Linked DNA regions of Homo sapiens: all the other regions are linked to region 1. The links come from fine-mapping of genetic effects on gene expression. A gene starts in region 1. Each other region holds a variant in brackets. All regions are shown on one strand. Distances are from middle to middle.

Region 1 (5,352 bases):
CAATCAAACCTTTCATTTCAAGGCCAGTTTCCCACCATACCCCTTCCTGTTCCAATCAGGTTTGCGAAACATTTCCCCTATTCTGCATTTCATGAATCAATTGCAAAATCTGCCAACCTCTGCCAGTTCCTCTTGTACTCAGCTGAGAGGTTCCCCTTCCTTCCCTGGGTAGCACAAGGCTGCTCTGGTTTTTAACTGGCGTAACGTGGAAATGCACTGTAGGAACTCACTAACTCTTTCACAGCCAGATGTAAGTGAGAGTCTGGGCGGCAACCCCACCTACTAGGAAACTGGTCCACCAAGCTCAGGATAAAGCAGATTTGTGGAATTTAGCTTTGACTCCAAATCCCGTGTCAGTTACTGTCACGGGGAAGGAAAAAGGAAGAGTGAAAAGGTCTACAAAGTAACCAATTCAGTTACTTAGCAACTGGACAAAACTTGCCTCACTACAGAGGGTAAGGAGGCATCTCACACCCATTCAAAGAGTAACAGTCTACAATTTACATGCAAATAGATAAAGAAAAAAGGGAACGGGAAATCTAAATTAGCAACTGGAGTTTAGACAGTGAGACTGAGGCCCACATTTAAAAAAAAAAAAAAAGTTTATCCTAGGAAAGAGACAGGACATGTACAGAAATGAATGAATTAATAAATGAATGAATGAATGAATGCATGCATGCATGCATGCATGCAAAGCCACAGGCCCAACAAGTTTACAGTCTCCCTTCATAAAAGTCAATGCCACGGGGGAGAGAGGAAAGGGCCACACAAAGTTCGATACAATTTAAACATTTCCACGGCTAACATGAATTACAGGCTTACAGAAAATGTGAAGTTGGGAAAACTCCTGGGAAAGTAGGTACCCCCGCTCATGAGAAAAGCAAACAAAAGCATCACTCTTGGTGGAAGGTCTCTGGACTTTGGGTAGATCACAGCCTCTCCGGGTCTCTAGATACCCTCAGAAACACCCTCCAGTACCCATGCCTGAAATGCAGTTACTAAACTTGGATCTAACCCCGACTCTTAACAGGAGACACGCCGCCCTGCAGGTTTCCTAAGCAAGAGGGAGATACTGTCACCTACTTGGCTCGAGAAGGTGCTCCAGGCTTTTCAGTTTGCCCGAGGAGCTCCAACTCTCTGTCCCCAGCCTCTAGCTGCACACCCGAACCGGATTTGCTCAGTTCCAGGCTCAAAGGGGAAAGAGGACTGAGGGCTCATCCGCCCTCACCCCATCCCCCAACTTCACACCTGGACCAAGGCCGGCAGAGCCCAAGGCTGACTCCCAAAGACACGCCAGCCCAGACACTTACTTCTCATACTCGGTGTTGTCTCTGTCACAGCGAGAATCCTTGTGCTTTTGCCAGTCTTTGCCATGCTTGCAGGTGGTGAGGAGCACAACGTCCTCCCCGTTATGGACGTGATATAAGGCATTCCTGGTGTCTGATCCTATCCCTGTCAGGTACCTCTTCCCCTTGAATACCAGCATGTACTTCCTGAGAGGAGGGATGGTGTTGAACTTCAAAAACCCCCTCTCCCCTCCTGTCCTGGGATGATCCTTAGAAAAGAGGGGAATAGAAACATCAAAGTTGGGTCGGAAGTTTTCAGTACTGATGCTGGCTTTGGCCAGCATCGCCTGGCCGATGTCAAACCCCACGTCCTCGGTGTAGTCAGGCCAAGTGCCGGAATATAAATTAAAAATTAAATGATTCCTACCATTGTTCCACAAGTGGAGACTCTGCACTTTGGATCTCAAATTGTGCACATACTGAGGTGACAACTGGTCTCTGTCTAAAGTATCCAGACTCAGGACAAAGAGGCACGCCTGGCTGGGGTCCGAGGTGTAGAACCTGGAGCCCTCGATGGCCGCTAGAATGTTTTGGTAACTTTCGGCGATTTTCTCCCCTTTTTGCTGTGGGTATACGTAGACTTTGAAGCCGTTTTTCTTGCAAAGGGTGAAATCGAAGCAGGACTCCATGCGGCACTTCTTGCCTTTGTAGATGCTGGAGTTGGCATCTCGCTTCTGCCGGGGGGAAATGTGCACGCTGGAATCCTCGTTTTCCAATTGATCCCAAGGAACGAAGGGGCGCAGAGCGTCCGGGAAGCGGGGCCAGAAATGATCCGGACTGGGGTGGTGCAAGCCATTCCTACCGCTGTGTTCTTCTCTCCGGCTGTGGCTCCTCGATGCCCTAAACTGCAAGCCTCCGAAATAAAACAAAAGGGCGAGACAAGAGCCAGCTGAGAGCAGGATGAAATAGCGTTTTTTGGCCTGCATGTGTCCTGCCTGGGTCAAGAGGATTGTAAATAAACACAAGAATCACCCAAGTTTCCCAATCAACACTTTCAGCTCCAGTCCGCCATCTTCCCGCCTGTAAAGACTTCAAACTCTCCGCTCCCACCTTCTCTGGATGCCTTTCCCCAAGCCGTGGACTGATCCAGCGCATGTGGGCGATTTCTTTAACTTTCTCCCCTTCGGTCTTTCATCTTTGGGTTGCACAATGCACGGGAGAGAGCGGGGCTGAATATCTCGCACCCAGGGCGGGCGAGCAGCGGACTGTAATTTTCTTGCATGCAACAAGACGGAGGAAAAGAAAGAGAGAGGGGAGAAAAAAAAAGCTCCCGATACCCAATCAATGGCAAGACGAAGTGATTGCCTTGCCTCTCGGATTCCTCTCGGCAGCGTGGAAAATGAGCCCCGGGAAGGCAACTTCAACTCATCCACCACTCTCCGTGCAGAGCACTCCGGTTCCAACAAGTCAGCCGATCCCGGGTTCAGCCGGCTAGTGCATCTTGCAGCTGGGGCGCCGTAACCTCACAAATCCCTGCATCTCTCTTTATTCCCTTCTGCAGCGGCTCCAAGACTCCGGCGGTGTTTACTCCTGCGCTCGCGGGGCCGGCCCCCGGGACGCGCGGCGGCCCGGCTGGAGGCGGCGGCGGCGGCGGCGCTGGGTGGCGGCGGCGGCGCGTCCTCCCCGCGGGCAGTGCCGGCCCCGAGCAGCGCTTCGCAGGCCCCCGCGCGAACGCTGCCGACCGCCGCGTTCGGTCGCCGAATGTTACCCGGTTCTGAATGTTACACTTACACATTCCATTCCCGACACGACAGCGCTGACCTCATCCATCCACGCAGCCCGCGCTGCCATTGGCCGAGCGTCACGTCCGGGGGGGGCGGTGCTTCCGCTGCGCCCATTCATAACCCCCGGCCGCGGGCCGAGGCGCCGGCGCGGCGTTGGGGGCGTAGGGGGCGCAGGGAGCCGGGGCTCCCGGGTTGCAAGCTGCCGGCGGGCTGCCGGGCAGGTGGAGCGCGGGACGGCCCGGTGCGAGCCCCGCGGCCCCTCGGCGCGCCCAGGCCCGGATCTCGGCCTGCGCCGTGCCGGGGACCAGAGGCGCCTGCGGAAACGCGGCGGCCGGGGAAGGAGGCACCGGCAGGGGCCCCGTGCCGCGCGGCCCCGGGCGCCCTGGAGAATCTGGCCTCCTGGGCTGCCTGCCGGAACGCCTAGAGAAAGATGCTTTGAAGGAGGGAAGCAGGGAGGAAAGGAAGACTTCATAGAAAGCGACCGCCGATCCGAAAGCTGCCTCTCCCAGCCCTCCTTCCACTCTCCGAGACCCAGTATTTCAATTTTCTGCTAAGCATTAAAACAATCTCCCCTTACTCCTCCTCTACATAGCACATTTTTTTAAACCAAAGAAACACCCCAATGCCCAACAATAAAGAGGAATTATTACAATCAAGAGGAATTGTTGCAATTCTTCATGCCTGCCTCTGTGCTAAGAGTGTAAGACGGCTATCCTAAATCCTCATTATCTACTTAGGCCGCCTTGCCTGAGCCCCCTCTGTCTATTATGAAGAAAGCTTCCAAGAGATCCAATCACAGAGAAAAAATAAATTTTCTAATGGCTGCAGGGAAACCAGTTAATTTAAGCTTGCCCCAGTCCTCAAAGTGATGTTATTCTCTTGGTGGTGGTGGTGGTGGTGGTGGTGTTAAAGATATCTCTTAAGGACATATGACTGGTAGAATTGCCAACTGTCCCAGCTATAGAAGGAACACTTGCATCAGGAAAACTACCTTATGTACAATTAGTGCCAAATAGTTGGTCCTTCCCTCACTGACCTCCCACTCCTTGGCCCAAGCTCCTGCCACTCCCAGTGGAAGAACTTCATTAGATAACTCAGGTAACCGAGGAGCAGTCCCGCTAAAGATCCTCCAGGTCCACAAAGATGTGCTAGGCTCCCAAACAGTATCTCTGGTCAAAGTCAAACTCCCTGGCCTCAGATCCTGAACACTGCTTTACAGAAAACACCTCCCACCCTCTGGCCTAGCTAAAGTCTCAGGGCTCGGGCAAGCTAGACAGTTGCCTAGGGCAGCCGGCTGTTTAGTGATTGTTTATTATGGGAGTGACTGAGAGCTAGGAGCAGACACTTCCCGGCTTCCCTCAGGCTGCAAAAACCCCAGCGGGGTGTGGATGAAGGGCAGGGTTATAACAAGGCAGTATGAAATGATAGAGTGGAAAGTTTCAGACCTCTGTTGTTTCAGATTTGTTTTAATAAAGCAGGGAAGGGGCATGGGTGGGACATTACTATACATTCGTGAAGCCTCTCCCTATTTCTGACCTGCCAAAGATGAGACAGCTTTTCCAGATTTGACTTGAACCCCCTGCACAATGTAGAGAGGCCTGGGACAGGAATAAGGATTCAGTCATCTTCCAAATACAGTGACAATGATGCAGATAAAGGCAGTGATTGAAACCACATGTGACCCAAAGCTCCCCCCAGCCCAAGTTGCTAAGAACAACAGTTCAAGGCAGGAGGCCTTCTCTTCTGATCAGGGTGCAGATTATCTCAGCCCTGTGAAGTGGGGCTGTGGGACTGGAGGTGCTCTCTCTCTCTCTCTCTCTCTCTCTCTCTCTCTCTCTCTCTCTCTCTCTCTATATATATATATATATATATATATATATATATGCTGGAGTGCAGTGGCAGGATCTCGGCTCACTAGAAACTCTGCCTCCCAGATTCAAGTGATTTGCCTCCCTCAGCCTCCGGAGTAGCTGGGATTACAGGTGTGCACCACCAGCCCTGGCTAATTTTTGTTTATTTTTGGTAGAGATGGGGTTTTGCTGTATTGGCAAGGCTGGTCTCGAACTCCTGACCTCAAGTGATCTGCCCACCTTGGCCTCCCAAAGTGCTGGGATTACAGCATGAGCCACCTCGCCTGGCCCCTCTATATCTTGCCAGTTGTTTTGCATGACCTTAGGGGGAGCTAGCTACCCTCCTTGCTCTTTTGTGTTCTGTTTATGTTTTGGCATGTGCTTCCTGCTTTTCTTGCCTAATTATGGCTAATTTCCTTATCCCAGACCCCA
Region 2 (5,000 bases), 200 kb before region 1:
GTAACAAAGGGTGTGCTCACTTTGTGAAAACTGGTCAAGCTGGACATTTAAGATGTGTGAACTTTTTTTGGATATATATTATGCCTCAATTAAAAAAGCTGACTTTAAATGTGTCTTTCAAAAAAGAACTAAAAGAACATTCCATTTCTAGCTCTGAGCAAAGAAAAAAATTAAATCAAAAAGACCTATAAATATACCACTTGATCAAAGTGTACTTATAGGAACTCTGGTGAAAAGAAGCCAGAATTCCAAGTGGGAGAGACCTAGATTCAAATCTAGCTCTGTTGGCTGACCGTGGGCAAGCTGACATTCCTGAGCCTTGGTTTTTCTCTTCTGTATAATGGAGTAAAGAGTAACTTCCTTCAAGAGGCACGTAGGTACCAACAAGTATTATTCCCTTCCCCATTCCTACTCTGCTCTGAAAAATCATCAAGGTCAGAGTCCACACCAAGTCCTGTTGTTTTAATATGGTGCCTGGCACATGGGGGGCAGCTTGATAAAACTTTGTAGAAGGGGGAGGCGGAGGTTGCAGTGACCTGAAATCGTACCACTGCACTCCAGCCTGGTGACAGAGCGAGACTGTCTCAAAAAAACCAAAACAGGCCAGGCGTGGTGGCTCACGCCTGTAATCCCAGCACTTTGGGAGGCCGAGGCGGGTGGATCACGAGGTCAGGAGATCGAGATCATCCTGGCTAACACGGTGAAAGCCCGTCTGTACTAAAAACACAAAAAATTAGCCGGGCGTGGTGGCGGGCGCCTGCAGTCCCAGCTACTCGGGAGGCTGAGGCAGGACAATGGCGTGAACCCGGGAGGCGGAGCTTGCAGTGAGCCGAGATCGCGCCACTGCAGTCCAACCTGGGAGAAGAGCGAGACTCCGTCTCAAAAAAACAAAACAAAAAACACTTTGTGGAATGAAAGACCAGATTTTTACCTTCTAGGGACCTATAATCTCGAACGGAGTCAGAAGAAAAAGACCATGAAAAAAATCCATCACTTCCAAGCCCCTCCGCTTGCTGATGGCTCCCATTTCTCCCAATCACAAATAATCTCTCCCAACAGGCTGTGGTACTGAGATTTCTTTAAAAAGGCTACACTTCCTGCTATTTGCTTTTGCTTACATAAAACCAACTCTGCTTCCTCATTCTTTAGTATCCCTGATTTGCATGACTCTTGGCTTGGTATTCTATCCCTCGTATTTCTTACAGCAGTTGTTTGACCATTCCTCACCATTCAAGGTCTTATTTCACTTAACACTTTAACTTTGAACATGTGTTACTTTCACAGCATCTCTCACAAGGCAAATGCTCAAATTTAATTTTGATTGATTTAATTCTTGGAACACAAGTTCGGAACCCATCTAAATACTAGCTTATGTTAAGTCTCTACCCAACTAGTTTCATGTAAGGAGAATATACAAACCAGGAATAGCAATAATGATAATAAGACTGATGCCTGTGACAGACTAAAGTAATAGATTTATTTCCCATTCAATTTAGGAACCCTTAGAATTCTTCTAACACAGCAGTCCAGGAAGCCACTACCAATCAATCTAAGTTGCCATCAGTTGAAATCTATTAGTCATTCCCAGGAATAAATATCCTCCAGTATGACAGCTCTCCAACACCTTATGACCTCAGAAAATGTATCCCAAATCTGTCTTAACACATGCAATGTTTCCTACGAAATTCCTTAAAGCACAGAATTCATACCCTGTATCTTAAACTTCTAACACACAACTAGTATACTCAAAACCGAAAGATGATGTACATCATGAACACTTGAAAAATTCACGAATTAAAAATGTCTTACAGGGAAAGCAGTTGTCTCCTTGGGAAAGAATGGTGTATGGTTTACACCTATTTTAAGGAGAATGATGGTGGCATGAGCAGGTGTCAGATCTCAGAGCAGAAGGCAGAGGTCTTGTCATACAGGTCTTACTCCACCCCACAAACCCCATCCAATATTGCTTGACTAATTTGGAATGGCTATTACTCAACATTTGGAGAATCAGAATTCCAAGCAGAGAAAGCAAACAAGAAAAAAGGAACAGTTTGCTGTAGCATATCTCCCTCACCCCACGAAATTAAGATGGCCCAAACCATGGCTGACCATGCACATTCACTTACATACAGCCCTGACTTCTCTATAAAGGATGTAGCTTTCCTCAAGGTATCCCTTCTTCCTTTTCTCCATCCCCCAAACAATTCTCAGATCAAACAACAAAGCTGCCTCTGCAAAGTCTACTAATATCCTGATTATTCTCCAAACATAAAAAGGTGAAAATGAATTGTTAGTCTTTTAATAACGAATGCAATCAGTCCATCTAAGAGTTTAGCAATTTTCCCTAACAACATACTTCTCTCCACCCTCACCCTTACTTTTCTGAGCTTTCAAACACTGTGAAACATTTGCTCTAGGTACCTAGCATCAGAGCCTTGCACAAAGGGTTGGAGAGAACAATCGACAAAGCCTCTATCTGTTTCATCATGATGGTTCCCCTTACTAATAGGAAGTGTGCTTCCTGTCCATCCTTTGACTTTTGCTGTCAGTGGGAACCCTATTGCCTTAAAATAACATTCTGAATTCACCTGCTTACTGTTGAGCACGCTA[A/G]CACTTTCAGTAGTGACACTTAAAAATGGAAAGTTCCATTAATTGTTAATAATGGAAAATGAGATACTCTGAATTAGGAATATGCTCTCACTTTGCTGTTTATTATAGCTATCAGTTCTGCCATATTATATATGAATTCATAAATTATGCTGTGAGATTTACTCTCATACCACATTGAACTTGGTAAGAATCTATTCTAGGTCTTCCTGATTAAATTCACATTTAAAAAAAAAATTAATGGGTAAGTATTTATCCACTATTAGGAAACTCTCACTTTTTGAAGCGATCTATAAAGTCTAGTAATCAGCCTGTGAGCAAGTTCAGGTATTTATAAGCCTATAAAATACACCTGCCACATGTGGGTTTTTACACTTGAACAGTAAGATGGCATTGGCTCTGCAATATTTTTGAAAAAGCCAAATACCTACCTCTTCATCACTTGTAAAATTAAAGGGCAATCGTAAACATCGGATACATTTCTATTTCTTAAATAGGATCTAAAGTTTAAAGAAACAGCTTTCTGGCTCATTTTAGCCAAACATTAAAGTTTCACTAATTTAGGTAACATTCATTTGGTATCCAAAAATGAGCATAAATACTGTGTGCTGGAAAAAAACTCTTTAAGCAAACAAATGCTATCAGTAATACAGGATTAAGGGGGATGATATATGTTCCCTCAAAAGAATTATTTCCCAAAACTGCATTTACAAAGAATAAATGAAACTTAAAACTATTCTGTATCTCTTACAAATCAGTCTCTTAAAAACTCATTTTACAATAGGGTCAGACAATGATAAAAACTTAGAACTGCTGGTCATGGTGTCTCATGCCTGTAATCACAGCACTTTGGGAGGCTGAGGCAGGAAGATCACCTGAGGTCAGGAGTTCAAGACCAGCCTGGGCAACATGGTGAAACCCCACCTCTACTAAAAATACAAAAATTAGCTAGGCATGGTGGTGTATGCCTGTAGTCCCAGCTACTCAGGAGGCTGAGGCAGGAGAATCACTTGAACTCGGGAGGCAGAGGTTGCAGTGAGCCAAGATCGTGTCACTGCACTCCAGCCCGGGCAACAGAGCGAGACACCATCTCAAAACAAAAACAAAAACAAAAAAAACCAACAAAAAACAAAAACAAAACACACACACACAAAACAACTTGGAACTAGCTGGGTAAAGAATATAGTGGCCTAAGGAAATCGTTATTAGCCCCAATTTATAAACAATTAAATTGATGACAGAAAGAGGAGCAGGTGGCTTCTTGCATTCAAAGTGGAACAAACTTGAGGCTTAAAAATTCCAGGCGGCTGGGTGCGGTGGTTCACGCCTATAATCCGACCGTTTTGGGAGGCTGAGGAGGGCAGATCGCTTGAGCCCAGGAGTTCAAAACCAGCCTGGGCAACATGGTGAAACCTCGAAACCTCATCTCTACTAAAAATACAAAAATTAGCTGGGCGTGGTTGTACGCGCCTGTAATCCCAGCTACTCGGAAGGCTGAGGCAGGAGAATTGCTTGAACCCAGGAGGCAGAGGTTGAAGTGAACCGAGATCGGGCCGTTGGACTCCAGCCTGGTCGACAGAGCGAGACTCTGTCTCAAAAAAAAAAGAGAAAAGCTGCTATAGATGAATAACTTGGTGTCATGGCTAAAAAAGAACAATAATTGCAACCTATTCTAAACTAAGAGTAAGACATTGAGAAATGCCAAATCAGGCCCTTCAGTTGCAATTGGAAATTTAAAACTATGTTTTTCATTTACAAGAAAGAAAATTCACTTCTAGCATGTTATCTTTATCATCATATTAGGCCATATTGTAGATGAGAACACTGGAGTTTAAAGAGATCAAATAGTATGTAATAAAAGGAGAACCAACATCTTTTAAAAACTGTAAATGTATGTGATCCTGTTTGTGGACCAGCAGAGATTATGCTAGTTTGATTTAGTGAACTGTGTGAATAATGAATAAATTCAAAAAATATGTATTTTTTTGTTCCCATGTTTTTTATATTTATTTCAAGTTTACAATACAAGCAGATTTAAGCTGAGCAAGGGTTCCTTGAGAAGGAGGGCCCGACATGGATCTGAAAGCTGGTGCTATTAATAGTTTGAAAAGAAACAAAATCATAGTTGGATGGTACATGCATTTGCCATCATTTATTGTCATCATTCATTGCCACCATTTCCCAGTTCATTTCCTGGAAATCCTGCTGCAGAAAAGGTTGTAAATTAATTTTTTTTTATTTTTATTTTTTAGATGGAGTCTCGCTCTGTCACCCAGATGGGAGTACAATGGTGCAATCTCAGCTCACTGCAACCTCCGCCTCCCAGGTTCAAGCGATTCTCCTGCCTCAGCCTCCCAAGTAGCTGGGATTACTGTTGTGCACTGCCATGCCCA
Region 3 (5,000 bases), 270 kb before region 1:
TAACATCTACAGCTGATCTACTCCCTCCAGTCCCCATCCTCATAAGTAATTAATCTTTCCTTATACACAAGTTTGAATAATATCCCTTAAGAAAAAAAGAAAGAAAGAAAATAAAAATAATTTATGACTGTTGTAGTTCTCTAAAGTGCATGGGGATGAGAGAAATGAAATTAACATCCTTTGAGCACCTCCTTGCGCCTTTTTCATTCATTCACCAAGCATTAGTTGAATGTCTACCATGTGTCAGGCACTCTTCAGGGAGCTCACTGTCCAGAATAAACAACATGTGTTATCAAATGATGATTAGTCAGCGAGAGGAGTGCTAGGATTGGACATGAGGTAGAGGTGGGTGTTATACAGAGAAGAGAAGCAATGGCCACATGTAGGCAGGGAGGCCTCCTGGAGGAAGTGAGACCCTGAGCTAAATCTTAAAGGATGTACAAGAAGCAACCAGGCACAGGGGTAAGAGGAGGTGATGGGAATTCCTGGGGGTAGAGATAGCATAGCAGGAACAAAGGCACCAAGGTGAGAGAAACCACCCAGTTTGGGGAGGGGAAGGTATGGGGGTGTGGGCTGCTGTTACTGGTGGGTTGCCACTAGGAAGGCTTTCTATGACATCTCCTAGAGCTCAGAGATGATCCCTTGCAGGTGACTGGGGTGTCACTGAAGGGCTTGAGCAGAAGAATGACATGGTACCAATGGTGTTCTCAGGACTTCATATAACCCAATTTCATAGAGAAGCAATTAAGTTTGGAGACCTCAAAAACCCTTCCAATGCAGGTCACAGCTAGGACCAACCAGCCTGTGTTCCAACTCCTGGATTTCTCATTCTAAATCCCATTTTCTTTCCATTACATCACATTGCCTCCTTGGTCAGCCCATACAACATGCAGTGTCTAAAACTGACATGTCTTATGAAGCCAGGTCCTAAGCAGTTCACCTAGTTTCAAGCATGGGCTATTCGTTGCCAATTTAAAAGGGCTGTTTCTCTCCCATTCAAAACTTCACCCCAGATCACTACCAGGAGCTCAGTTTAAGAAGGTACTCTGTCATCTATTTACTAACCATGTTGCCTTAGACCCTTCCTTGGCCTTTAAAGGTTTAACAGTTTAAAATTTCAATTACTATTATTATTATTATTATTATTATTATTATTTTGAGACAAGATCTTGCTCTGTCACCCAGGCTGCAGTGCAGTGGTGAGATCACAGTTCACTGCAGCCCCGACCTCCTGGGCTCAGGCAATCCTCCTGTCTCAGCCTCCTGAGTAGGTGGGACTACAGGCATGTACCACCATGTCAAGCTAATTTTTAAACTTTTTGTAGAGATGGGGTCTCACTTTGTTGCCCAGGCTGGTCTTGAACTCCTGGGCTCAAGTGATCCTCCTACCTCAGCCTCTCAAAGTGGTGGGATTACAGGAGTGAGCCACCATACCTGGCCTAAAATTTCAGTTATTTTTGAGAAAACTGAAGTTTACAGCATGCAGTCGTACGGAATTGCCCAAGGCAAAGATTTGAACTGAGAAACATATATAAGTGGGAACCAATCTTTTAGCTGGAAAATGGGTCCAACTGGCCACTGTTCCATCTCAATTAGGAGACTTGAAAACATAGAATATGGAAAAGTATAGGTCCCTGGTGTCTTTGAGAATTCTCTGGACTTAAGGAGCCACAGTTTCTCCATGACACCTACTCACACAGAGTCTCTGTGCACACAAATGAGCTGCTATAGTACAAATGAGCTATGCAAATGTGCAGTGCTAGGCTCTGGGACTGGCTGACCAGGTTGGCTGCAGCTTCAGGGATGCTTGGCGTCCCCAAGCAGGAAGGCACTCGCTATTTGGAGGTGGTACAATTCCTTACTCAAGACAGTTTTTTGCCTTGAGCATTGCCTGCTGTTAGAACTGCCACACCACTCCCCACCTCCCCAGTCATGCCAAGGATTAAGAATTTATTTCCTTGTGACGCTCCTCAGTCTGAGGCTGCTGATCCCAAGCTGTCCACCGCAGAGAGCAGTGCGTGGCTAAAACCAGGGCCAGGAATTTATATTCACCCTTTCACACTTCTTGGCTTTCCACAGAAGAGAGTCTCCTTTTCATGTCCTCTTAAAATCCATTTCAGCATAGGGAAGGGAGGCAGATAACATTTTGTGGGCTGGGGCTGAGGCATGAAACCCCTATGGGAGGCATTCACTCTCATATCCATGATCTCATGACAGCCTCACAACCACTGGGGACGTGGGGAAAGATACACCTGTCTTTCACAGGGATGAGGGAGTCAGAAGAGTCCTTGGACTCAAACATCTTGACTGAACACGCCAGGTCATAATCTCTTATCAACTCTAAACTCCACCCCCCATCCTTAGGTTAAATGTCTACTGACAGTTCAGAACCTTAAACTTAGCCCAAGTGGTAATTGCTACCTGTGTATATTAATGAACACAACATGTACCAGGTGTAGCTCATACTTCAAGAGGGGTAAAAGATGACCATCTGAATTCCTGCTCATTAAATAACAGCTCAATGGCTAATATATAAAAGTAAGTAAAAAAAA[A/T]AAATAAATAAAAGATAGCTATTAATAACAACTTTTTAAAAACTTTTTTTAAATTTTAATTTTTTATAGAGACGAGTCTTGCTATGTTGCCCAGGCTGGTCTTGAACTCCTGGCCTCAAGTGATCCTCCCACATCCTTCCCAGTCCCCAAAGTATTGAGATGACAGGCATGAGCCACCATGCCTGGCCAGATATAAATTATAATAACAACAATACCTCCACTTTTTAAGCATTTCCTGTGGGTGGGGCACTGAGCTGCACAATCTGTAATCTTTACTGTGCCTTATCTTTACCACCATCATGGAGAATAGGTGCTACTGACCCCAGTTTACAGATGATGAAGTAAAGTGTCACAGGTTTTGTTCGGTTTGTGCAAGGAGGATGGGATCCACGACCAGCTCTGTCATCTCTCAACCTACCTAGGAGGAAAGAGTAACGAGGTGCCAGCAAAGGTGAAAATAAGAGACATTTAATACATCGTGCCCATGACATTAATCTCAGGAAGCTTTCTGAAAGAGGAGAGGTTTTGCAGCACCAGCTTTTTCTTTTTTCCCCCCTTTGAGCAGAGTCTTCTTGCTCTGTTGCTCAGGCTGGAGTGCAGTGGCATGATCTCAGCTCACTAAAACCTCTGCCTCCTGGGTTCAAGTGATTCTTGTGCCTCAGACTCCCAAGTAGGTGGGACTACAGGTGTGTGCCACCATGCTCAGTTAATTTTTGTATTTTTAGTAGAGATGGGGTTTCATCATGTTGGTCAGGCTGGTCTTGAACTCCTGGCCTCAAGTGATACACCTGCCTCGGCCTCCCAAAGTGTTGGGATTATAGGCGTGAGCCATCGTGCCTGGCCAGCACCAGCTTTTATACACAGCAATACCCACTTCCAAAACTCTTCTCAGAGAAATGCAATTCCAAGACACATGGGCCTAAATTCTCTGGTTCAAAACAAAACGTTTTTGAAAATGCTAAATAAAGGGCTACCTGAGTACAGTGGCAGGGAGGGGGTGCAGGGGGAAAAGAGGGGATTAACAATAAAAGAGCCAGCAGCAACAGTGAACTCAGATGGATAAATGGGTCCAGAAGAGTCACACACAGGCCCAATGGTGATGGGGAAGCCTGAGGTCATTATCTTACCATTAACTACCTTTCGCCAGGCTCTAAGCCAATGGGACTGGTTAAGTGGAATGGAGCCAGGAAGTATGGACAGCAGCCCGAGAAGACCAGGATAGGGGTGGGCAGCGCAGTGTGTCTGTTCTAAGGGTGTCAGCTCCCCACCTAGGACAATCTGAGTCCCAGGAGGCTGGCTGTGGAGGGAGCACTTCTTCCCTACATGCCCCTCTTTCCTTCTTTTTCTTAACTTCCACTCCTGCTGCCTAGAGGAAGGCTTCCCTGATCCCTGGAGTTTGGGAACCCTGTGCTAACTCTCTATTGCTCACTCTGTATTAAGTTGCCCATTTTTCTCATTTCCTTCCCCTGGATTCCGGGACACAGGACCTTGGTCCTACTTTCTGTTGACCCAACAACTACCTTAAGGGCCGGCCTACTGTAACTACTCAAAAAAAGAGTTGTTAAATGAATGTAAGGTGCTCAGTGTCCACCAATTTGCATTAAAGTGTACAGGGGCTATGGAAGCAAGAAGATAACAAAGATAAGATGCAAGCCCTTCATTACAACAATGTCCACTTTAACAAACACATGCCCAACTCTTGATTTATGCTGGGTTCTTCCAAGAATGAGTTCATTCCTATGCTTACACCAAGCCCAATTTACTTGGGGAATGAAAAATCGTGTTATTTATTTAGTCTTCCTTTTGTACATTTTAAAATCCCTTCTCTGTTTTTATTTCTACAGGTCTGGCAGCTTGTTAAAAATGTCATTTTCTCCCTGCACGCTGATGAGGGTAGAAAATTTGTGTTTCACCAGCCCTGACAAATAGCATTATTTGTAAATCAAGTTAAATGCATGCACAGTGCGGTTCAAACTGAACCTTCTCCTGGCCTTCCTCCATGTCTGAACTGAAGAATAAAAAGCTGTAGAACCTCCTCATGGCTTCTGCAATGACAAACCCTGCACCAGTCCAAAAAGCAATGACTCCCTCCCTCTGCACAGAAAACTGAGCTCGAACCAATGTCTGACCACTTCCCTTCTTGATCCAAGATATCCTTTCCAGCAAGGCCAGCCTGGATCAGGCCTCGGATTAGGAGGATGTTTGGCATTCCTACTGTTCTCACCCCCAGGGCAGGCACTGTGCAGAGTCTGTCCCGTGACCTGCATTCTTGTCAGTGTTTAATCCTTTTGTCTGGCCCCTGCACTTAAGTGGTTATAAAATATCTTGAGAATCCAATGACAGTTTGTGGAATGTCAGCTGATGCCACCAACCTCACCTTCCCATTTTCTCTCCCACTGTTGCATCACTAGCCTCTGCCTTGTGACTTTGACAGTCAGGGCTGCCACC

Alleles and levels. Alleles are on the strand shown, and positions count from the first base shown. SD is a standard deviation of normalised expression in the study named. Not every link is listed here.
For the expression in tibial nerve of the gene that starts at base 3,052 in region 1, G is the low allele of the variant in region 2 and A is the other (small effect, 0.19 SD a copy in GTEx).

Evidence for each region. PIP is the estimated chance that this variant, and not a neighbour inherited with it, causes the effect. A credible set is the group of variants that fine-mapping cannot tell apart.
Region 2: its variant is the best candidate, but not a certain one, in a credible set for the expression of EXT1 in tibial nerve (GTEx, PIP 0.75).
Region 3: its variant is the best candidate, but not a certain one, in a credible set for the expression of EXT1 in monocytes (TOPMed, PIP 0.79).

What each region holds. Positions count from the first base shown.
Region 1 is chr8:118,108,775-118,114,126 of GRCh38, forward strand. It overlaps EXT1 (exostosin glycosyltransferase 1), which reads right to left and starts at 3,052. Exons shown (of 11, transcript NM_000127.3): 1 at 1,311-3,052. The coding sequence starts at 2,272. RefSeq lists silencers at 2,905-2,994, 3,095-3,474.
Region 2 is chr8:117,904,930-117,909,929 of GRCh38, forward strand. The region is part of intron 1 of EXT1 (exostosin glycosyltransferase 1); the gene reads right to left. Among named protein-coding and RNA genes, the nearest start is that of SNORD168, 13 kb to the right of the region's middle. The variant A/G (reference allele first, on the strand shown) is at 2,611.
Region 3 is chr8:117,843,013-117,848,012 of GRCh38, forward strand. All of the region lies in intron 1 of EXT1 (exostosin glycosyltransferase 1), which reads right to left. Among named protein-coding and RNA genes, the nearest start is that of SNORD168, 75 kb to the right of the region's middle. The variant A/T (reference allele first, on the strand shown) is at 2,553.